Homo sapiens: one gene and its partners. The protein of the gene in region 1 interacts with the protein of each later gene in a biochemical or structural test. Each region holds a gene or a part of one and is shown in the gene's direction. Other genes may lie near its edges. The genes, in order: IKBKB, PRKCA, PPP2R3C, AURKA, BCL10, NAA20 and SKP2.

The links.
Region 2: the proteins of IKBKB (region 1) and PRKCA form a complex in vitro, tested with the Homo sapiens proteins (one study listed by BioGRID).
Region 3: the proteins of IKBKB (region 1) and PPP2R3C form a complex in vitro, tested with the Homo sapiens proteins (one study listed by BioGRID).
Region 4: of the proteins of IKBKB (region 1) and AURKA, one has a biochemical effect on the other in vitro, tested with the Homo sapiens proteins (one study listed by BioGRID).
Region 5: the proteins of IKBKB (region 1) and BCL10 form a complex in vitro, tested with the Homo sapiens proteins (2 studies listed by BioGRID, with this or other methods).
Region 6: of the proteins of IKBKB (region 1) and NAA20, one has a biochemical effect on the other in vitro, tested with the Homo sapiens proteins (one study listed by BioGRID).
Region 7: the proteins of IKBKB (region 1) and SKP2 form a complex in vitro, tested with the Homo sapiens proteins (one study listed by BioGRID).

Annotation. Positions count from the first base shown.
Region 1 is NC_000008.11:42,330,302-42,332,960, forward strand, and holds the end of IKBKB (inhibitor of nuclear factor kappa-B kinase subunit beta), read left to right. Parts: exon of another isoform or gene 1-38; intron 39-612; coding exon 613-678; 3' UTR 679-2,159; downstream 2,160-2,659.
Region 2 is NC_000017.11:66,683,613-66,687,112, forward strand, and holds part of PRKCA (protein kinase C alpha type), read left to right. Parts: intron 1-3,498; coding exon 3,499-3,500. UniProt on the Homo sapiens protein: Calcium-activated, phospholipid- and diacylglycerol (DAG)-dependent serine/threonine-protein kinase that is involved in positive and negative regulation of cell proliferation, apoptosis, differentiation, migration and adhesion, tumorigenesis, cardiac hypertrophy, angiogenesis, platelet function and inflammation, by directly phosphorylating targets such as RAF1, BCL2, CSPG4, TNNT2/CTNT, or activating signaling cascade involving MAPK1/3 (ERK1/2) and RAP1GAP.
Region 3 is NC_000014.9:35,094,491-35,097,990, reverse strand, and holds part of PPP2R3C (serine/threonine-protein phosphatase 2A regulatory subunit B'' subunit gamma), read left to right. Parts: intron 1-1,226; coding exon 1,227-1,282; intron 1,283-1,357; coding exon 1,358-1,433; intron 1,434-2,806; coding exon 2,807-2,943; intron 2,944-3,500. UniProt on the Homo sapiens protein: May regulate MCM3AP phosphorylation through phosphatase recruitment. May act as a negative regulator of ABCB1 expression and function through the dephosphorylation of ABCB1 by TFPI2/PPP2R3C complex.
Region 4 is NC_000020.11:56,385,716-56,389,215, reverse strand, and holds part of AURKA (aurora kinase A), read left to right. Parts: intron 1-431; exon of another isoform or gene 432-807; coding exon of another isoform or gene 808-904; intron 905-1,013; coding exon of another isoform or gene 1,014-1,018; coding exon 1,019-1,060; intron 1,061-2,682; coding exon 2,683-2,959; intron 2,960-3,500. UniProt on the Homo sapiens protein: Mitotic serine/threonine kinase that contributes to the regulation of cell cycle progression.
Region 5 is NC_000001.11:85,270,133-85,273,632, reverse strand, and holds part of BCL10 (B-cell lymphoma/leukemia 10), read left to right. Parts: intron 1-2,726; coding exon 2,727-3,015; intron 3,016-3,500. UniProt on the Homo sapiens protein: Plays a key role in both adaptive and innate immune signaling by bridging CARD domain-containing proteins to immune activation.
Region 6 is NC_000020.11:20,027,362-20,030,758, forward strand, and holds part of NAA20 (N-alpha-acetyltransferase 20), read left to right. Parts: intron 1-3,397. UniProt on the Homo sapiens protein: Catalytic subunit of the NatB complex which catalyzes acetylation of the N-terminal methionine residues of peptides beginning with Met-Asp, Met-Glu, Met-Asn and Met-Gln. Proteins with cell cycle functions are overrepresented in the pool of NatB substrates.
Region 7 is NC_000005.10:36,155,111-36,158,610, forward strand, and holds part of SKP2 (S-phase kinase-associated protein 2), read left to right. Parts: intron 1-3,500. UniProt on the Homo sapiens protein: Substrate recognition component of a SCF (SKP1-CUL1-F-box protein) E3 ubiquitin-protein ligase complex which mediates the ubiquitination and subsequent proteasomal degradation of target proteins involved in cell cycle progression, signal transduction and transcription.

The DNA of each region.
Region 1 (2,659 bases):
GTCACAAGATTTATTAATAAAAGGGTTTGGCTTTTTAATTTGTATTTGTTTAATTTATTTGTTTTATGCAGCCTGGGTCTTGCTATGTTGCCCAGGCTGGTCTTGAACTCCTGGCCTCAAGCGATCCGCTCGCCTCTGCCTCCCAAAGTGCTGGAACTATAGGCATGAGCCACCATACCCAGCCAATAAAGGGGTTTCAATATATTTCTTTTTATTTTTTATTTTTTGAGATGGAGTCTTGCTCTTTTGCCCAGGGTGGAGTGCAATGGCACGATCTCAGCTCACTGCAACCCCTACCTCCCAGGTTCAAGTGATTCTCCTGCCTCAGCCTCCTGAGTAGCTGGGACTATAGGAGCTTGCCACCACGCCTGGCTAATTTTGTATTTTTAGTAGAAATGGGGTTTCACCATTTTGGCCAGGCTGGTCTCGAACTCCTGACCTCATGATCTGCCCACCTTGGCCTCCCAAAGTGTTGGGATTATAGGCATGAGCCACTGTGCCTGGCTGGGTTTTAGTATATTTCTCAATTGTCCTGATTTCCTCCTGAAGAGGAAAAATAACCTGAAATGTGTTGGTGGCTGTTGTTTTTTTAACATGTCTGTTGACTTTCAGGCCCTAGACTGGAGCTGGTTACAGACGGAAGAAGAAGAGCACAGCTGCCTGGAGCAGGCCTCATGATGTGGGGGGACTCGACCCCCTGACATGGGGCAGCCCATAGCAGGCCTTGTGCAGTGGGGGGACTCGACCCCCTGACATGGGGCTGCCTGGAGCAGGCCGCGTGACGTGGGGCTGCCTGGCCGCGGCTCTCACATGGTGGTTCCTGCTGCACTGATGGCCCAGGGGTCTCTGGTATCCAGATGGAGCTCTCGCTTCCTCAGCAGCTGTGACTTTCACCCAGGACCCAGGACGCAGCCCTCCGTGGGCACTGCCGGCGCCTTGTCTGCACACTGGAGGTCCTCCATTACAGAGGCCCAGCGCACATCGCTGGCCCCACAAACGTTCAGGGGTACAGCCATGGCAGCTCCTTCCTCTGCCGTGAGAAAAGTGCTTGGAGTACGGTTTGCCACACACGTGACTGGACAGTGTCCAATTCAAATCTTTCAGGGCAGAGTCCGAGCAGCGCTTGGTGACAGCCTGTCCTCTCCTGCTCTCCAAAGGCCCTGCTCCCTGTCCTCTCTCACTTTACAGCTTGTGTTTCTTCTGGATTCAGCTTCTCCTAAACAGACAGTTTAATTATAGTTGCGGCCTGGCCCCATCCTCACTTCCTCTTTTTATTTCACTGCTGCTAAAATTGTGTTTTTACCTACTACTTTGGTGGTTGTCCTCTTTTCGGCAAAGTTGGAGCGAGTGCCAAGCTCTCCATCTGTGGTCCTTTCTGCCAAGAGCGACTCATAGTAACCAGGATGGGAGAGCAGCTGCCTTATTCTGAATCCCAAAAATTACTTGGGGGTGATTGTCACAGAGGAGGGACAGAAAGGGTATCTGCTGACCACCAGCCTGCCTACCCATGCCCATGTCTCCATTCCTGCTCAAGCGTGTGTGCTGGGCCGGGGAGTCCCTGTCTCTCACAGCATCTAGCAGTATTATTAAATGGATTCATTTTAAAAATAGCTCCTATATTTTGTAACATGTCTCAAACACTCATACTGGGTTCCACAATCCACTGTTAGAATACCTATGGTTAGGGCTTCTGAACTAAAATAATGGAAAATTTTAACAATTTGTATAGTGCCTGGATCATTACTAGTGCCATAACCCTGCTTCTTCAACATTTCACAGAACTTCTCTTTTATATAAAGGCAAGAGCACAAAATGAGTTCAGATGATCACAAACAGGTGAGTTTTGTTGGAGAAGAAAGTTGGAGTAGGAGACTTTCACAAGTGGTTTCCATGGAGATAGAATGAAGCATTCTGTGGTCAAGTAAGTTTAGGGAGCTATTCATGTTTCACTTGCTTTGTGGAGATTCACACTATGCACTGGGAAAGTATCTGAAAAGTCTTATAATAAAGAAACAGGCTTAACTTTGTGTAAGAACACTGTTTATCAATGTCATTTGGCTATAGAAACATTTTCTCCTGCTGATTGTGTGTGTGAAACATGTATTAACATTCCAATGAACTAGCATTTAATAAAGCACAATTTTGGAAACCCTGGTAAATGACAGTGGGAAATAACACCCGAAAGGCAAGGACGGGCAGATTGGGGAGGGAAAGGATGTTGGGCTAAGGGCTGTGAGCTTATGTTACAGGCAACTGAGCCACTGAAGAATTTTGACGAAGAAAATGCCAACCAAAGCAGTCATTTTAAAAGTTTATGGCTGTTCAGTTACAGGACAAGTTGTGAAAAGAAAGAAAAAAAATGGAAAAAAAAAAAGTTTATGGCTGAAACAGTGTAATTGATTAAAAAGTGAAAATCCAGGCCGGGCGCGGTGGCTCACGCCTGTAATTCCAACACTTTGGGAGGCTGAGGCAGGCAGATCACCTGAGGTCGGGAGTTCGAGACCAGCCTGACCAATATGGAGAAACCCCGTCTCTACTAAAAATACAAAAGCCAGGCGTGGTGGGACATGCCTGTAATCCCAGCTACTCGGGAGGCTGAGGCAGGAGAATCGCTTGAACCTAGGAGGCAGAGGTTGCAGTGAGCAGAGATTGTGCCATT
Region 2 (3,500 bases), on another chromosome or scaffold:
TCGGGGGGATAGAGTCTCACTGTGTCACCCAGGCTGGAGTGCAGTGGCATGATCTCAGCTCACTGCAGCCTCCGCCTCCTGGGTTCAAGCGATTCTCGTGCCTCAGTCTCCTGAGTATCTGGGATTACAGGTGCCCACCAGCACGCCCGGCTTCTTTTTGTATTTTTAGTAGAAATGGGGTTTCACCATGTTGGCCAGACTGGTCTCAAACTCCCAACATCATGTGATCCACCTGCCTCAGCCTCCCAAAGTGTTGGGATTTGACTCCACATCTTGATCACATCTTTCCCTTGTTTCTCTCTTCTGTCTCTAGCCCTTGTTCTCATCCGCTTCCCCACTTCAATTTTCCTCTTATTTTCTCTTTCCTAGCTTCCCCAGCTTCCCCTCTTCCATCTTCCTTACAACTATTCCTATGAGTAATGCCCCCTAGCATTGCCTCTTAGCCTGACATTCTTGAAACCATACAGTTGAAACCCTGTTAGAACATTACCACACTGTACTGTTTTCCCCGGCATTTGCTTACCACTCCGTAAGCTGTTGGTGCAGTTTCTGCACATCTAAGATTGTTCTCCACCAGTAACTTGTATTAAGAGCAATTATGATCATCACTATTGTGCTCTCACCGAGTGCCTATCACTGCTCTAAGCACTTTACATGGATGAGCCTACATAATCCTTGCTTGAAGGAGATATAATTTTCCAGATGAGGAAACTTAGGAAGATAAAATAGCTTGTCCACAACCACAGAGTGGCAGAGCCAGAATTCAAATGCAGGCAGCCTTGCCCCAGATCCTACACTCTGAGCAGATGGGACCCTAAGTTAGTTGCTCGTAATCCTGATTCAGGTGTCCTGGCATGCCATGAGTCACACTCACACAGGCTGTTCTCTGCTGTGATAAGAAATTGAAATTTGGACCCACTATTTGCTTCAATGACATTTAGAATTGATAACTCTTTTTATTTTCAACTTAAATGGTAGTATCTCAGTAGGACACTCACAGCTTTAAATCCCATCAAGATTTTAACTCATCACCATTCCGAAGAGATCTTACTTAAATGATTTTTTTTGTGTGTGTTGTCTGTCAGGAATATAAATTGAAGATATAAAAGCCAGCACCCGCAATAATTCTGCAACTGGTAGGAGGCAACCCAGGACCTCTTGGTGACCTTAATAAGGGTCTTCTTTGGCTTATCCAGGATGTGACCTTCTGCAGCCTCCAGTATTAGACATTCCAGGGCATTTTCTGCCTTTTAAAAAGCATCTGATTCTCATTCTGGTGTTTAATCAGAGAGAGACCGTTGGCCTCTTTCCATTCCTCATGGGAGAGCTCCATTTTTGTGCTCACATTTTTCATCTTTGGTGATACTCAGGGTTGATGTTTTAGTGGGCTAGACTTTCTGCATTGGATTAAAACCTTTCACATGAGCTTGGTGAATTCTCCAGTGACCAAGTCCCCTGGGGGCCTCCAACCCTATAGATTCCAGCATGATAAGAGTGGAAAGGAGTCCGGAACATCATGCCTGGGGTATAGTGAGCACTCACACCATGGATTTATTTTTTCATTTTCCAAGCCCCCAACCATGTAAGGTATTTTATAAACATTATTTTATTTGATTCTCCCAACAATTCTATACCACTGGAATTATGTCCGTCTTCATTTTTCTAGATGAAGAGACAGAGGCTCAGAGACTAAGCTTCCCAGTGCTCAGGGTTACATGGTGAAGGAGGCAGAGTTTGCATGTACACCTGCTGAGCCACAGGGACCATGCCTATGTGTTTTATTTGTGTGCTATCTGCTCCCTGAGATGAATGAGGTTAGATATTTTCTTAGGAGAAGAAATACTTGGAAGGCACAAATGGGGTATGACAAACTATGTTCAGCTTCTCTGTGGCTAGCAGACCTGAGCTAGCCCCCTCCCCCTCTGTATTTGAATATAGTCCCATCTGTTACCTACCTATGTAAGGCTTCCAGGTAAGGAGGATGTAAGGCTGTTGGCTGGCAGGAGGCAGAACACAGTAGATCCACAGACTAGTAAAGGCAATGCCTGTCTCTGACTTCCGATCTTAGGGCTGTACCTCCCTCATTTGTGTCCAAAGACCCAACATCTTTAGGGTTCTCCCCCTGCCTCCTCCCCATCTAACCCTGCCCACTGACAACTCCAGTGCCTTCTTCTCAAGTTCTTCTGTAATTCTTAATTTAATAATCAAACTATGCTGATAAACTATGCTAATTGCCTAGATCTGTGGTTCTGCAACTTTTATGGACATCAGAATCACCTGGAGGCTTGGTAAACACAGATCATTGGACCTCACCCCAGAGTTCTGATTCAGGAGGTGTTGCCAGTGCCGCCGGTCCAGGGACCACACTGTGGGAACCACTGAATCAGGGAGCCTGGTCCCAGTTATATGTGTGTTGATGGTGTCTGACCAGTTGGGTATCTGATAATTCAGCCTTACTGGGAAAGATGCCATGGGAAGATAGGAAGGCATTTGAGATAGGAGACTCAGGCTTTTGTCCCTTCATCATAGCAGTAGATAATTATCTTTTACGTTGACGTGCAGTGGCTTTAGACAGCTTCTCATGGTTGTGAGCCTCTGCCAGCTCTTAAATCTTTGAGCCTGTTTTCCTCTGTGGATGAAATGGCCTTTCCTTCTAATTATTTTTGATTCCCATATCAGGTTTCTCAAGCTAAGATTGCATTGGAAGCACCTGGAGGTCTTGTTAAAGTGAGGATTCTGAGTTATTAAGTCTGAGGTGGGACCCAAGGTTCTGCATGTCTAATGAGCTCCCAGGTGATATAGATGCTGCCGGTCCATGGACCAGCAATTCTGAGTTACAACTGTATACAGCAGTGGTGCTTGCCCCTGCTGCCCAGTAGAATCACCCAAGGAGCTTTTAAAAACGAATACTTGAGCCACATTCCTTGGAGATTCTAGTTTAATTCTGGGGATTAGAATTTTTAACTCCCCCATTCCCCAACCCCCATGTGATTCCAATGTACAGTCAGAGTTGGAAGCCATTGGCCTTTACCCACAAAAAGGGATAACACCTTCTGGGAGCTCAGGTGCGTGTGTGGCACCATAGACCAGGTTGGGCTGGTCGCTTCCATGCAGGGAGGGTGCACCATTACTCCTGGGGAGCTGCAAAGGTCACCTGGGAATCTTGTTAAATTACAGATTCTGCTTTGGCAGGTTTGGGGTGGGACCTGGGTTTCTGCATTTCTAATAGATATCTTAGTGTTGCTGATGCTGCCAGTCCAGGCTGGTGCTAAGTCCCAAGACCCACCCACAAGGGCCCACACGATGCCCATTATCTCTGCCGGTGGTGGCAGCGGGTAGCTTTTCTCATGTCGAGTGTTAGAGGCTTTTGGCTTCCACCATCTGTCTCCTTAAACGCCATTCTGACGTCTCTTTTATTCAGCTTGGTATTGACACAAGACAGCGGGCAATATAGGTCTGTTCTCTTTTTGTAATATTTTCTTCCTTCTCTCTTCACAGTA
Region 3 (3,500 bases), on another chromosome or scaffold:
ATTGTCCACATTTTATGTGTAAGGCAACTGAGACTTTGCTAGGTTACATATTTAAAAGTGGCATTCAAACTCCAATCTGGGCTAGGTGTGGTGGCTCACACCTGTAATCCCAGCACTTTGGGAGGCTGAGGTGAGAAATCACTGGTGCCTAGGAGTTCAAGACCAGCCCTGGCAAGACAGACCTCTTCTGTACAAAAAAGCAGCAGCAGCCAGGCGCAGTGGCTCACACCTGTAATCCCAGCACGTTGGGAGGCTAAGATGGGTGAATCATCTGAGGTCAGGTGTTCAAGACCAGCCTGGCCAACATAGTGAAACCCCATCTCTACTAAAAATAGAAAAAATTAGCTGGATGTGGTGGTGGGTGCCTGTATTCCCAGCTACTTAGGAGGCTGAGGCAGGAGAATCGCTTGAACCCAGGAGGCAGAGATTGCAGTGAGCTGAAATCACACCATTGCACTCCAGCCTGGGCAACAAGAGCGAAACTCTGTCTCAAAAAAAAAAAAAAAAAGAACAAGAACAAGACAAAACAAACTCTGCTCTTAAACCACACCTGTTTACCTGCGTATTGCTTTCTAGTCCAGAACCTGCCAAAAATAAATGGAGACAGTGTCCCTGTTCGTGTACCAGCAGTACTATATCTATAATCACAACTTTTTTGAAAATCTGACATCAGTATAATTTTAGAATTTACCACTTAGATTTATATAGTTGAGGTATACAAGTAGAGATGTTATTAAATGTTGCCTGTAGGTTTCTCTTTTTTTTTTGCAGGGTGGGGATGGAGTTTTGCTCTTGTTCCCTAGGCTGTAGTACAATGGCTTGATCTCAGCTCACTGCAACCTCTGCCTCCCAGGTTCAAGCGATTCTCCTGCCTCAGCCTCCAGAGTAGCTGGGATTACAGGCGCCCTCCACCACACCCAGCTAATTTTTTGTGTTTTTAGTAGAGATGGGGTTTCACCATGTTGGCCAGGCTGGTCTGGAACTCCTGACCTCAGGTGATCCACCTGCCTCAGCTTCCCAAAGTGCTGGAATTACGCGGTGAGCCACCGCGCCCAGCCGAGATTTCCCTTTTTGTAGCAATATGTAATAAGGACTTTGGAGCATAAGAGCTAGAAGCTTTAAAATATCAATTGTGTGATTGCTCTTGTTAAAAAAATTTTTTTTTAATTAATTGAGTTGCTCTTTTCTTAAAATGAAATTAATTGTGTTTCTTTATGTTCTTAAAGGAAAGATAAAAATTCAAGATATTTTAGCATGCAGCTTCCTAGATGATTTATTGGAGGTAAATGTTTTTAAACTACTTAATTGTATCACTTGACAGTTGCTATCTTCTAATTATGTCTTTGTGTTCCATTAGCTAAGGGATGAGGAACTGTCCAAGGAGAGTCAAGAAACAAATTGGTTTTCTGCTCCTTCTGCCCTAAGAGTTTATGGTATGTTCCTATCATAATGCTAAAATTTGAATTATCCATTCTTCAGGAAATTGGTGTTCAGAGGACAGTTTTATACATACACTGATATACCTTAAGATCAAAATATTTAATTACCTTAAGCTTTAGTATTCTACATTACCAAAATTTACTTGTTTAAATACCGATGTTTTAACTTTTTGGACTCCCCCCAACCTTTTCTTTTTGAAGACAGGGTCTCACTCTGTCACACTGGCTGGAGTGCAGTGACATGATCACGGCTCAGTGCAGCCTTGAAGTCCTAGGCTCAATCCTCTCACCTCAGTGCCCCTACCCCACCCACCCCACCACCCCCAGTACTGGGTCTACAGGCGCCATGCCTGGCTAATTTATTTTATGTTTTTTTAGAGATGGGATCTCACTGTGTTGCCCAGGCTGGTTTCAAACTCCTGGGCTCAAGCAGTCCACCTGCCCTGACCTCCCAAAGTGTTGGGATTATAGGCATGAGGCACTGCACCCAGCAGAACCCTTTTTAAGTTATACACTTCCTTTTCAATAGAACAGAATGTAATTTGATCCTTGTTGACTCAGGAGCATCATTATGAACATTAGCTATTGTCATGCTTTGTTGATAAAATGCTATTCCCAGGGTCTACTGATGGAGCTAATCTACATTATCTTGTTGGGTGGTCTTTTGACTCCTTTGGCTTTTTTTTTTTTTTTTTTTTTTGGAGATAGAGTCTTGCACTGTTACCTGGGCTGGAGTCCAGTGGCATGATCTCGGCTCACTGCAACCTCCACCTCCCAGGTTCAAGTGATTCTCCTTGCCTCAGCCTCCCAAGTACCTGGGATTACAGGCGCTCGCCACCACACCCGGCTAATGTTTTTTTTTTTTGTTTTTTTTTTTAGTAGAGACGGTGTTTCACTATGTTGGCCAGGCTGGTCTGGAACTCCTGACCTCTGATCTGCCCTCCTCAGCCTCCCAAAGTGCTGGGATTACCGGCGTGAGCCACCACGCCCGACCTCCTTTTGGCATTCTTATCTCTACTTTCAAGTGCTAGCATTTCAGTGCTTTTTGTTGGCCTCTACCTCCATTTAATTTAGAAACCTAGGAATGTTTAAAAAGACTGCAAACTGAAAACAAATAATGATGTAAGTGAAACAGCCCAGAGACTATGGCCTTCATGATGGGTTTTTTTGGCTGTTTCTAGCCCAAGGGTTTTTCTGATCAAGATTGCAAAGGTAGCTGATAGTATTACACATAGGCCACTACCCTAATCATAACATGAATAGTTTGAAAATCAAAATATTAACCAAGAAAAAACTTTTTGTTAGTCTATTCTTCTGATTAAAATTTTATTGTGGTCATAAGTGTCTTTATTATTTTTCTTCCCAAGGCCAGTACTTGAATCTTGATAAAGATCACAATGGCATGCTCAGTAAAGAAGAACTCTCACGCTATGGAACAGCTACCATGACCAATGTCTTCTTAGACCGTGTTTTCCAGGAGTGTCTCACTTATGATGGAGAAATGGTAGTAGTTTAAATCTGCTGCTAAGTTTTAAAAGTTTAGGCTCCCAGAGTTTCCACAAACCCTTTTCTTGATGTAATACAGCCCTTTTTTTTTTGAGACAGAGTCTTGCTCTGTCGCCTAGGCTAGAGTGCAGTGGTGTGATCTCCGCTCAATGCAACCTCCACTTCCTAGGTTCAAGTGATTCTCCTGCCTCAGCCTCCGGAGTAGCTGGGATTATGGGTGCATGCCACTGCATCCAGCTAATTTTTGTACTTTTAGGAGAGATGGGGTTTCACCAGGTTGGCCAGGCTGGTCTTGAACTCCTGACCTCAGGTGATCTGCCTCCCAAAGTGCTGGGATTACGAGGCGTGAGCCACCACACTCGGCCCAGCATTATTGATATCACTGTGTAACAGTGTCTTTAAAATGTGTAAACTGATCAAATTACTTGAGATTCAGAGTCTTTGGTCTTAACGTAAATTAAAACATCTGCATTATGGCCTCAGGGCAAATAGAAAAGCTTATTGTTCATTTCATTGTCAGTGCACCTACTGTACAGTAGTGCATTCTAGTTTTTT
Region 4 (3,500 bases), on another chromosome or scaffold:
GTCCAGGGACTCGTTCTTGAGTCACCCCAGACCCTTGATCTGGCAAAAATGAGACTGACCCAGCAAGGAGGGAAAGACAGGACGACTAGGTGGTAGATAAACCTGGAAGTGAAGTGAAGAAAAAAGTGTAAGATGTGATCAACCTTGTCAGATTCTGCTGAGGATGCAAGTACGGGGAAGGTGGAATTGACCCTTGGGTTTGGCAGCAGTAGGTGTCAGCCATGAGCCTGACAATGTGGTGGAGACAAAAAAGCCAGGTGGGGATGGGCTCAGGGGAGGGGAGAGGAGCAGTAGAGGTGGCAAGTGTGGACGGTTCTTCTGGAGCTTTGCTGTTGGAGAGGAGGGGGTCATTGTTAGCAACGATAATAGAATAAAGAGGACTTTTATTTTATTTTATTGTTTTGAGACGAAGTCTCGCTCTTTTCCCATAGGCTGGAGTGCAATGGTGTGATCTCAGCTCACTGCAACCTCTGCTTCCTGGGTTTAAGTGATTCTCCTGCCTCAGCCTCCCGAGTAGCTGGGATTACAGGTGACTGCCACCACGCTCAGCTAAGTTTTGTATTTTTAGTAGAGACGGGGTTTCACCATGTTGGCCAGGCTGGTCTCGAACTCTTGACCTCAGGTGATCCGCCCACCTCGGCCTCCCAAAATGCTGGGATTACAGGTGTAAGCCACCATGCCCGGCCTAAAGAGGACTTTTTTAAGGTAGCAGGTATGCCAGTAGGCTGCACAGGGATGGAAGTGATCCATTAGAGGAGAGATGATGGAGCAGCAAGACCATCAGGAGTGAAGACTCCGTGACAGAGGATGGGACGCAGTGCCCAAGGGGAGGTTGGCCTTGCAGGGAAAGCACATGCCTGTCCCTCCCTCATTAGCTTCATTTGGACAAAACATGTAAAATCCGGTGTGTTGTGGAGGCCTTTTGATTGGGGAACTGTAACGCTGCCTATCGAGCAACAGCACTTTAAGCAGGTGGCTTTGTTCAAATTAAAGGTTCTTCTTTTTCTTTTCAGGCATCATGGACCGATCTAAAGAAAACTGCATTTCAGGACCTGTTAAGGTAAATTGAATAATCTGTAATCTCATTCACATTTATAAACCCACATGGAGGTTGGTCTTGTCGGGAATTCTTTCCGCCTTTACTTTGGATTTAAATTTAGATCCCTTACTGTGATCCTGGATATGAATTAGTCACTTTTCTCGTGTTCAGTAACATTTTGCTGCTTCTTAGAGTAGCTTTTTTGTTCTGCTTTGTCTTATAATCGGCTGCTTAAGTTTCTATATCCCTCCACTGTATGCAGGATAATAGTAATAATGCATCTGGCAGGAGTTCAAAACTTTTAAAATTGGCCATAAATATAAAATAATTAGAAAAAGGCTACCTTGAATTACTGTATTTGATTCTAAGTTCCTATGATAACGGCCATTTAAAAAATTGCTCTATATTTAAAATGTTTCTTTTTATTTGTCTTTGTCTGAATGCCTGCTGCGTTGTGGACAGTGTGCTAATTTCAGGAGTAACTGACTTTGTATTTGGAAGTCTTAACACCCTCTCTTTGTAGAGCACTCATACCGTTGAGCTGGGGATGGACTTTGAGGCTTTCATTTCTAGCACTTGTCCCTCACTTACAATGAGCTGTTGAAGCTGAAGGAAATCTCATCCCTCCTACCCCTTTTAGTTTGATTAGCTGAGGGTGTTAGAGTTAACTTAACAATTTAAGGTTGTAATACAGTACTTACAGGCGTATAAATAATACATTTCAAGGCTGGGCGCGGTGGCTCACGCCTGTAATCCCAGCACTTTGGGAGACCAAGGAGAGTGGATCACAAGGTCAGGAGTTCAAGACCGGCCTGGCCAAGATGGTGAAACCCTGTTTCTACTAAAAATACAAAAAATTAGCCAGGCGTGGTGGCAGGCGCCTGTCGTCCCAGCTGCTTGGGAGGCTGAGGCAGAGAATTGCTTGAACCTGGGAGGCAGAGGTTGCAGTGAGCCGAGATCATGCCACTGCACTCCAGTCTGGGTGACAGAGCAAGACTCCATCTCAAAAATAATAATAATAATACATTTTAGTAGTAACTTTGTGAAGTGTCTACATTTGTTTCCTCTTTGTCAGTTTTTTGCTCAATTCCATTTTGTCAATACTTGGAAAATGAAACATTGGTTAATCAATAGTACAGTAATAAGCTTATTGTGGAAAATCTTCGATATATGAAAACTTAGACTCTTCTAAAACTTCATGAAGATAATACCACTGTTGAACGTTTTGACGTATTTTTTTTTGGTCTTTTTCTTAAACGTATATTATCAAAGAAATTTCAATGGAACTGAGATTTTGGCATAAAGTTTTTGTATCATAGCTTTTTGCCAAATAGCAATGTAGTGTCTATTTCCAAATTATTGAGAAATTTTAGAAAGTGTCTCCTTCATTAATGGATATTTGTTAATAAAGCATGATTTTTAGGGGTGAGGAATTGGAGGGGATAGAAGGTATCATTCAGGTATTCTTAGCCACATACTAACTATCCTCTGGAGGTACTGATTAAAATACCTTTTCACCTTCCATCTCTTATCAGTGACATTCATTATTTTGCTATACTAGAGAACAAACTTTGTGAAATTCTCAATATATTCATCTTTTGCTTTCATGAATGCCAGAAAGTTTATTTTCTCTTCCATTCTAGGCTACAGCTCCAGTTGGAGGTCCAAAACGTGTTCTCGTGACTCAGCAATTTCCTTGTCAGAATCCATTACCTGTAAATAGTGGCCAGGCTCAGCGGGTCTTGTGTCCTTCAAATTCTTCCCAGCGCATTCCTTTGCAAGCACAAAAGCTTGTCTCCAGTCACAAGCCGGTTCAGAATCAGAAGCAGAAGCAATTGCAGGCAACCAGTGTACCTCATCCTGTCTCCAGGCCACTGAATAACACCCAAAAGAGCAAGCAGCCCCTGCCATCGGCACCTGGTAAACTAGCTTTTGAGACTCATTGGATAGTCCTTCTTTGTCGTCGTTGCTAAAAAAGCCAGTGTATATACTTGCACTTATTGTTTGGAGCCTTAGCTTTTATATCTGTTGAGGATGGGGAGAAAATATGGTGTCTGGGTTGAAGTAACAGTGTCTGCCCATGGGCCAGACCTATGCTAAAAATACAGACCTGATTCTCACCCTCTTGGAAGAGTTGGGCACCCAGGGAGGACACAGCATAAATTGGTGTCCTTTTGATTGCTTGTTACTGAGTCTGGATGTAGGGTGCTTGCAGTAAGTGACTTGAAGGGACTGAGATCTAAAGTGTGGGGGAAATCCAGAGAAGTGGGTGAACTGAGGCAGGCTGCGGTGAGGTCACCATGGGCATTGCTGGCCATGTTAAGGAATGGGGCCTCATCTCTAGGGCATTTGGAAGCTACTGAAGCTTTTTTGAACTCAGAAGGGAACTCTGCCTTTTAGAAAGTTTACTGTGGAAGGCCAGGCGCAGTGGCTCACGCCTGTAATCCCAGCGCTTTGGGAG
Region 5 (3,500 bases), on another chromosome or scaffold:
AGGATGTAATTAGATTAGTACATGGAAATGTCAGATCAGCAATTACATCTGCAAAGTCAAAGATCAGAAGAGAGATCTGAGCTAGAAATGTAAGTGTGGAATTGAATGATTTTACCTAGAAAGCTGTGAGCTAGAAGAGAAAAATGGTGTAAAACCCTTTAAAGAGAAGAATTTTAAAAAGTGAATTGTTAGCTTGAAAGTAGGGTAACAACAACAACAAGAAAATGATTGAAAAGTTGTATCCACAGGGATGGGAAGAAAACCAGGAGAGTGTGGTATTCATGTAACAATTTTCTTGTTTCAGGGAGGGAGTAGTCAACTGTGTTTATGCAGCTGAAAAATGAAATGAAGACTGAAAATATTTGGCAATAAGGGGGTCATTGGTGACTTCGAGAAGAATACTGGGGCAGGATGGAAATGTCTGGGAATGAATTGGGAAATGAGGTGAAAGAAGTGGAGTCCTGGTGTATAGAAAGATGAAGTGTATACACAAGGTGCTACAAGGACAGAGGACGGGGTGCCTAACTCATTCTGGGGAGTTAGGTAAACCTTTCCAAAGAAGATGACCACTGACCTAAATCTTAAAGGACGAATAGGGGCTTTAGGGTCTGATAAAAGCAGACAAAAAATACGTAAGGAAATGTAGAGAGACAGATAGTTTTAGGTAGAGCATAAATTTTCAGGACAAAGGTAGTGATAGATTAAGCTGGAGAGGTAGGTAGGAGCCATATTATCAATGAACCTTGTCTTCCATAATTAGTTATTATTGAGTACTTACTGTGTACAGAGACTATGCGTGGCCTTCATATATAGTATTCCCATTTAGTCCTCCTTGATGTCCTGTGAGTTAAGTTTTTAATCCTTATTTTATCAATAACATACCTGGAGCTTGGAGTGGTGAAGTAACTTGGCCCAGCTCTCACAAGGGTGAGTACTAGATTCAAGATTTGCACTGAGGTTGATCCAACTTTAGAGCCATGCCCTTAACTTTTCTACTCTTCTGCCACGTAAAGGAACTTTATCCTTTAAGACAGGGCAGAACATTGTTTTTAATTTTTTTTCTAAATTAACAAAATTTCAATATTAGAATTTGCTGGGCACAGTGGCCCACACCTATAATCCCAACAACTCAGGAGGATAAGGTGGGAGGATCACTTAAGGCCAGGAGTTCAAGACCAGCCTAGGTAATGTAGCAAAGATCCCTTCTCTACAAAAAAAAAAAAAAAAAATTAAAAATTAGCCGGGCATGGTGGCTCACACCTGTAGTCCTAGCTACTCAAGAGGCTAAGATGGGGATCACTTGAGTCTAGGGATTCCAGGCTGCAGTGAGCTATGATCAAGCCACTGCACTCCAGCCTAGGTGACAGAGTGAGATCCTTAAAAAAAATTTAGTAAAATTCATATAATACTCCAGATTTCCATTTTCTCCTGAAGGAGAAATGTTGAGGAGGGGGAAGGAAGTAGTAAGTGCAGCTAGGTTTCTATTGTTAATAGTCCATGCCAGATATGATAAGGACCAGGTCCTGGACATAGTTATTTGCTCACTCTGTGCTTTTCCTGTATTTGACCTATAATCTTTTTTTTCTGGGCCCGATCACATTGTTTTATAATTATTACCTGTGATATGTATTCCCAGCTAGACCATGAGCCCTTTGCATGTAGGATTCAAATCTTGTTCATCTTTGTATACTCAGTGCTCAGCACTCGGCATATTAGGAATTTAGATTTGTAAAATACTTGTCATGTGAATAAACAAGTAAATGTGGAACTTCGTAGACCAAGAACCACAGGAACCCTTCACCTAGCCTACTTTCCTGCCATTACCTTTGTCATTATTACTAACATATATTGATCACTTACTATGTACCAAGCGCTTTTCTAAGCACTTTGCATATCTTTATTCCTCATATAACAGTCAGCTGAGGAAACAAGCACAGAGGAGTTAATTACTTGCCCAAGATCATATATCTAGTAAATAGAGGAGCTAAAATACAGTCACCGGTACCAAATTATTAATGCCATTTATTGAGATCAACATGGATTTTCTACTAATTAAGCTCTTAGGCACTTCTCAAATCTAGGTTTGCTTTTTTGTGGTGTCCTTTTTCTTTATTTCTTTCATTTTTCGAACACTCCCTATTCCCCACACATCTTTCCATCTCCCTTCCACCAAGACTGATTCACTGAGTTAGAGTGTAGTCTTTCCAGCTGACCCCAAAGACAGATACATTATGGGCTCTTTCAGTTTAGGGTTTTGTTTTTTGTCTTTAACAGTTTAAGGAAATGGAGTAATTAATAACAAACATGAGAAAGTTACAGACTGTGAGACCTCTCACTAAGTTATTGGTCCTGACTAATTCTGCATTCCTTGCCAACTGATAGCTAAAATGTACAGTAGTGTTTGCCCTCATCTTTACTCCCGAAGATGGCCCTCAACAGACCTCCCTGTTTCCAAGGACCCAGGCCCTCTAGATTCAGCTGGTCCCTCTTCACAACAGCCTGGTCTTGGTTTTTAGGTTTGAAGGTGAGATCAAAGCAGTGAGGAATGTCTAGGACCTACTTGTGTCTACTTGGACTTTCATCTTAATTAGCATGCATTTTAGAAGGCCTGAGCCTCCTGACTTTAGAACATTGTCTCACACCAGCTAAGACTGCCAACTAATAGTCACGTATGTGATTTTCTTAGATGTTAAAAATAACATTGAACCATATTTTATGTCTTTTAGGCCTTAGAAAATTTACGTGTATACCTGTGTGAGAAAATCATAGCTGAGAGACATTTTGATCATCTACGTGCAAAAAAAATACTCAGTAGAGAAGACACTGAAGAAATTTCTTGTCGAACATCAAGTAGAAAAAGGGCTGGAAAATTGTTAGACTACTTACAGGAAAACCCAAAAGGTCTGGACACCCTTGTTGAATCTATTCGGCGAGAAAAAACACAGAACTTCCTGATACAGAAGATTACAGATGAAGTGCTGAAACTTAGAAATATAAAACTAGAACATCTGAAAGGTAAGATATCTTAATTATCTAAGAGCTAATTTAAATGTAATAATGCTTTTAAAAAATGCAGAGCAGGCCAGGTGCCTGCACTTTAGGAGGCCAAGGCAGGAGGATTGCTTGAGGTCAGGAGTTTTGAGACCAGCCTGGGCAACATAGCGAGACTTTGTCTCTACAAAAAATTAAAAAATTAGCCAGGCATGATGGTGCATACCTGTGTTTCCAGCTACTCAGGAGGCTGAGGTGGGAGGATCACTTAAGCCTGGGACATTGAGGCTATAGTGAGCCATGATTGTGCTACTGCACTCCAGTCTGGGCAACAGAGCAAGACCCTGTCTCAGAAAAGCAAAACAAAAACAGAAATGATCATTTTGCTTTCAAAAAGTTTAAACTTCAAAATTATATTCAATTTGCACTTATTTTACCTTATTTGACACTATTACATTGAAAAAGTGGAATATCTCTCAATATCCTGTATTTGTATTCATTTAATACCA
Region 6 (3,397 bases), on another chromosome or scaffold:
TTTAGAAAAAAAATAAATTGAAAGAAGAAATATTTTCATTTCATTCTTAAATAACTGTGGCTAGCTACCAATGAGAGGTGTGCACCTGTTGGACATTAAATGACTTGGCAGAACCACTTGCATTCCTGTTTCATATTGATTTTCATCTAGTATTTTTTTTTAATCACAGCAACTGCCAGAAACTCAGCTTCATAGAAATATTATGTCATTAAGAGGAATGTAGCATGATCTTACGTTGAATTTGTGAACTACTTCAAACTAGTTTGCCAATATCTGACATGTAAGGTTTTGCTGTTTTCCCTGAACATTCGAAATATCCTTTGGTGGCTGTATGAGTTTGGGACACCTTAGGGCACCTGAGTGCACAGTTTGCGAACTGCCAGCATGGCATTTTTTTTTTTTTTTTTAAGGGACGTGTTGTATATATCAAACCTCTTCATTACTGGAGATAAAAGAAATACAATAAATAGAAGAGAAGGCCCCTCCTCGTATCTTCATTCTAGAAGAGAGATGTTTGTAGTAGCTTCACCTGTTGTCAAGCTGCCATTTCTTTCTCCACTGTAATTTCCTAAAAGTGTGGTAGGAAAGAGAATAGTTGCTGAGAAGGGTTCTTGAGCTTAATTTCTACTTAATTATTAGATTTAATAAAGGCAAGTTTTAAAGAAGTATCTGTGGCCTGACAAAGACTTCAAGCCAAATTAGAGGCAAAGGAGCTCAAACTCATTCAGAGAAGAAATTGTGTTAGCTGAAAAAGAAGTCGGTGCTAATCTTTAAGATTTTTTAAAGTTCTCTCTAGACCAAACAAAGAAGGGAAGAAAATTTTAGCATGATTATAGTTTACACACATTTATTAATGGCATTATGTTGAAAAAAAGTATTTGGCATTATTGTATAGTGAACAGGGAGTTAGAAAGTGGGTTGTTCAATGAGAACACATGGACACAGGGAGGGGAACATCACACACCAGGGCCTGTCGGGGGTGGGGGTCTAAGGGAGGGATAGAATTAGGATAAATACCTAATGTAGATGACGAGTTGATGGGTGCAGCAAACCACCATGGCACGCGTATACCTATGTAACAAACCTGCACGTTCTGCACATGTATCCCAGAACTTAAAGTATAATAATAATAAAAAAAAGCAGGTCGTAACTAGCTATGACCTTGCACATATAATTTAGGGTATTTGTATGATAGATTCTCCCTCTGAGTAGAAGACCACTAAGCTCTCTTCCCTTCCAGTTTCTAAGCCTTCATTATTTTAGACTAGTTGCTAAGATTTAAGTAATCTTCATTTGTAGGCATATATATACATATACACATACATGATACATATACATATGCTTATATACACTATATACATGTATACATAGTGCATACAATGTATACATTAAAAATAGAAACCAAACAAGTAGAGGAGAAGAAAAATTGAATGATAGAAGTCAACTCCAAAGAAGAGAAAAAGGAAATTAAACCAGCAAAACAAAATGCATGAAATAAAATGGTAGCCCAGAATCCAAATATTGTCAGTAATTACAACAGTAAACGTTAATGGACTTAGGACTTTATTTATTTATTATTAGTTTTGGAGATGGGGTCTTGCTCTGTTGCTCAGGCTGGAGTGCAGTGGCGTGATCTCAGCTCACTGCAACGTCTGCCTCCCAGGCTCAAATGATTTTCCTCTCTCACCCTCTGAGTAGCTGGGATTACAGGCGCCCACCACCATGCACGGCCAGCTATGATGACTCTATTTAAAAGACAAAGGCTGTCTGTATTGTTTACAGGAAATATGTGTAAAATATATTAAAATATTTTTAATACAGAAAGATTGAAAGTAAATTTTTAAATTACCTTGCAAATTCTAACCAAAAGAAAGTTAGAATACTTATTAATAATAGTTATAGTTGAATAATTATTACCAGCATAAAAAAGGGTCACTGCATATTGATAAAATATTTAATCAAGGAAGTAACAAGTCTGGGAGTGGTGGCTCATGACTGTAATCCCAGCACCTTGGGAGGCCGAGACAGGTGGATCACTTGAGGTCAGGAGTTCCAGACCAGTCTGGCCAACATGGTGAAATCCCGTCTCGACTAAAAATACAAAAATTAGCCGGGTGTGGTAGCACGTGACTGTAATCCCAGCTACTCGGGAGGCTGAGGCAGGAGAATTGCTTGAACCTGGGAGGCGAAGATTACAGTGAGCCAAGATCACGCCATTGCACTCCAGCCTGTGCAACAGAGCGAGACTCCATCTCAAAAAAAAAAAAAAAAATAGCGATTTAAAATGGTATATACCAAGTGACATCATTTCAAAGTAAAAATGCACAAATTGACAAAACTACAAGGAGAAATAGACAAATTATTATTATAATGGGAGATTTAGACATGCTTTTTTCTAATTGATAGAACAATGAGATAGAAATTTGTCAAGCCTATAGAACAAGAATCAGCAATTTTCTTCTGGGTCAGATAGTAAATATTCAGGCATTACAGGCCACCTAAAGTCTTGGTTACATAGTTTTTTGTTTTGTTTTGTTTTGTTTTGTTTTTAACAACCATTGCAAAAACCATTCTTAGCTTGAAGGCAGTAGCAAAATAGGTTATAAGCCAACCCCTGCCCTAAAGAATTTCAATCAGTAGCCCAAAATCTTTTCACGAAGAAAGCTGTGGCTTCTCTGGCCAATTTTACTAAACATTTAAGAAATAATGACTGAAAGGTCACTTTTACACAAACTATTTTGCACAAGCCAAAAAAGGGAACATTCCTCAACTTATTTTTTAAGGCCAGGATAACCTTGATAACAATACTTGGCAAAATATGGGAAAGGAAAATTCGAGGAACATCTCACTCAGATGCAAAATCTCGGAAAAATAATTAGCAAAGTGGATTTGGCACTACATAAATAGGATGACACATCAGGAACAAGGTGGTTTCAACTTTACACTAAAGGAGAACACTGGTTATTTTAGAAAGTGCAGCAAACTTGATAAAATCCAATATTCCTTCCTGATAAAAACTGTTAGCAAACTGGGAAATAGAAAGGGGGAACTTCCTTAACCTGAAAAATATCTACAAGAAATTTGTAGTAAATATATTTAGTAGTGATACACTGAATGCTTTCCTTTTGAAATTAGGGACAAGTTAGTCCCGCTTCAGTAATTTACTAGAAATTATAGCACAGGAAAGCAGGAAAAAATAAACGATAGGAGGATTGAGAGGAAACAAAACTTATTTTGCACAGATATGATTATATAAATATAAAATCCATAAGAATATAAATATTTAGAATTAATAAAAGGCAAAGTTGTTGGATATAAAGTCAGTATAAAAATCAATTGTATTTACATATGAGAGGAAACAAAACTTACTTATTTTGCACAGATATGATTATACAAA
Region 7 (3,500 bases), on another chromosome or scaffold:
TTGGTTGGTTGCTCGCTTTGGCAGCACATATACTGAAACTGGAAATACAGAGAAGATTAGCATGGCCCCTGCGCAGGAAGACATGCGGATTCGAGATGCATTCCACTTTTAATTAAGAAAATAAATACGTTTGTTTTCAGCCTTTTCTTTAGGAAAGAGAACTTTGCCCAATTTATGGTCTGGGAATATACATCAGGAATTGGATTAGTTAGAAAAGCAGTAGAGGGTTGTAGTGAAGTCAGATCTGGGTTTGAATCCTCATTCTTGCGTTTATCAGCCTTGGAAAGTTATTCGAGCTTTCTTTGCCTTAGTTCCTTTATCTGTGAAATGGAGTGCTGTAATAATACCCACTTCACAGGTCGTCGTGAAGATTAAATGAGAATGACGTAAAACCCTTAGCATGCCACTGACACGTAACAATACATAAGCCAACAAAATTCCTGACACCAATTTTGGAGGCTAGTGGACTTTTATCTTTTGTTTTTAATATTGTTACTCTGACCCTGTTAGTATAAAATTTTTTTTCTTCAAAATTTAATGTTCACCGCTCTTCTTTGTGTCTGGAATGTAGCCCTAACAATCTGGTGCTTGACCAACCAAATATGGCGAAAGATACTTCCTGCTAAGATGAACAGATTTTTATTAACCTGTCCAGTGCCGATAGCTTTTGACATAGAGTGTGATTGCTATATGCCCTTCCACAAGTGAAAAAGAATTTTTTTTAAGCAAGGCACTGTGGGAACAAGACAGAAGTTTCCGGAGTCTTTGCTATTTCCCAGGAATTTGCAAGTCAAGTTGAGGAGAAAATACAATAAAAAATAAGAGCTGTGATTCCCATTCAGGTGGATGTGGAAGATCTTCCTCCTTCCACTCAGCAAGAAAGGAGATTCTGAGGAAAGAGAGGGCTCTGAAAATGGTGTAATCAGTGTCTTGATGGTTAAAGCTGACTTCAAAAGTATATATCTGAAGGGAGAGAGAAAGAATGGTGACTTTTATGTTTATTACCTAAGGAGAGGCACAGAGGGAAACCAATGTACGTGGACTTACAACAGAGATTGCTTAATTGGTGTGGAGTGGGGAAGGGTGAAATCAGTGATGCAGGATGAGGGACAGCTGGTATAGAGGATTCCCAATGGGCCTTTGGAAGCCTGGGCCTCCAGTGGAGCCGGATTGTCATTCCAAGGAGTTTTGTCTGCAGTTGTCAGGACAGGTGGCTACTAGCTTTGCCAGGATTAGGGTAGAACAGGCCACACCTGCTGTACATAGATATCTGATGACTGGTTCTGGGCTGCAAGTTTTTGTTGGTTCTTTGCTAAGCAGTTTCTCCCTGCAGGCCCCAGTCCAGCCGTACATCTGGCAACTAAATCCTCTTCATCCGTTTATCTGGGAAGATGAAAGCTCTGTGGCCAACCTGTACTAGAACAGGTCTGATTGGCCCTTGGAGTGAGTGTATGGAAAGAGTTGGGGAGGAAATGGCCCAGCAATGAGGTCAGTAACAGGCGGAAAGGGGACAATTGCATTTTATTTATGGTCATGAAATGCTTGTCCCCCACCCCACCCTTTAAACAGGTGATAGCCATGAAAATGGAGGTGAACTAATTTGTTGATCAGCTCTTCCATGACTCTTAAATGCTTGAAATTCCAGACCCTAAAGTGGTTGTCAGACTGGAGATACTAAAATTTACTGTATATCAGAATCCCCACAGGAACTTGTTCAAAGTGTAAAATTCCTGAGATTCTGATCCGGGGAGTCCTGGCCTGAGTGAGCCTGGGAATCTGTGTCTTAATACCCTTAGGCAAGCATTTTTTCCAACTTTTTTTTTTTAACCAGTAAGAAACATATTTTACATTGCAATCCTGGGTATGTATCTGAAACAGCAGTTTTACAAAACTGTATTTCCCCTTACTAAGATATTTTCTATTCTGTTCTAGTTCATTCTTTATATGTACATATATGCTAGTCAAACCCACTAAATTGATTTCATGATCTATGTGAGTCTCAGTCTACAGTTACTAAACTCAGCACTGGAAGAGCCTTTATGGGATCTTCCCAGTCATCTTTCTTTGTTCCATAGCTTCCTTTCATTCATCCATTAAGCAAATATTTCTCAAGCACCGTTTTAGAGGTTGGGACTACAATACTGAACATAACAGGCAAGAGACCCTGCCCTCATAGTGCTTATACACTGTTCCATATTTTTTCCAAATCCCAGCTTCTGTTGTTTCTTCATTACACCCCCTACACCTCAGGGTTGAGCAAGTCTTTCATAGAAATAAAGGGTTGTGGGACTGAAGGGGTACATGGGGGAATCCTTGTTAAGTTTGGCTGTGTTTTGTTTTTTTCAGTTTTGCCCACCTTAGCCAAAAAAACAAAAACACCCAAAGCCAACATGGCCTCAAATGTATTATTTATGGTTTGTGGGAAGAGGAAGGAGAACTCATCTGGGATGGCACAATCTGTTTGTAGTTCCCCAGAAAGAAAGCATGGGGTATTGCTACTTAAAACAAGCCAGCAAAAGCAATTCTGAGGTGAGCACCCCCCAACTCCCTGAAAGAAATGCACACACACACAAAAACAAGTATGAGTACCAGGTCCTCAGTATACATTTCTGCAAGTATAATCTGATTATGCTTAAAGAGCAGCAATTTTTTAAGTCAAAAGTTTGATTATGATTAGCATTACTTTGGATTTTCAGCTTGAATCTGAGTGGAGTGGAGTGATGTTCTGAGAAATAAATGAGTGGAGTGATATTCTGAGAAATAAATATGTCAAGTAAGATGAGTTACCTACACTGCAAAGATGGAATGCATAGAAAACTCTCCAACAAGGCCCTCTTCCCAGAGAATTTCAGGAAGCATGAGATGTGATAAGGTTACAGAAGTGGGAAACTGGGTTTGCACCTGAGAAATAATTGGAAACAGTGGTAGGTGAGGGTGATTGTAGTAGGTTTGCTGGTTTGGCCCAGTTTTTGCCCTTTCCTGGCCCTGAAGTATATTTAACTGCCGTCCATGTCATTGAAGACTGGAGACCTTGGGCTCAGTAATTATGTCTTTTAATGTGGGTCTGGTATGCAGCTACAGCCTTGCTGGATTTAGCAGAGACAAGTGGAGAAAAGACCTCTGGATTTTTCCTTCCGCTCTCTGCAAACAGACCAGGCAGCAGTTTCATCATGAATTCAGGAAACAGATGGCTAATGTTTTGAGAATTAAATATGGCAAGGAAAATTAGATTAAGCATATCACAGCCTGGATGCCTATTGCTAGAGCAGCTATTAAAGACAAACTTCTGCCCCATCTGCTGGGACAGCAGCCCATATCAGGCTGTGGTACCCCCACCCGGGGCCCCTAGGATTAGTGTCATTCTGTGGTCAGCTGAGTAAGAGCACTGGGTACTTGGCTGCTAGCTGAGTATGTGTGTTTTCTAGGACCTTGCTCCTTCCATTTGGTGGTGAACCCATTGATAGCATCTTTGTTTTATTTTCTCTCTCCTCCTCCACTCA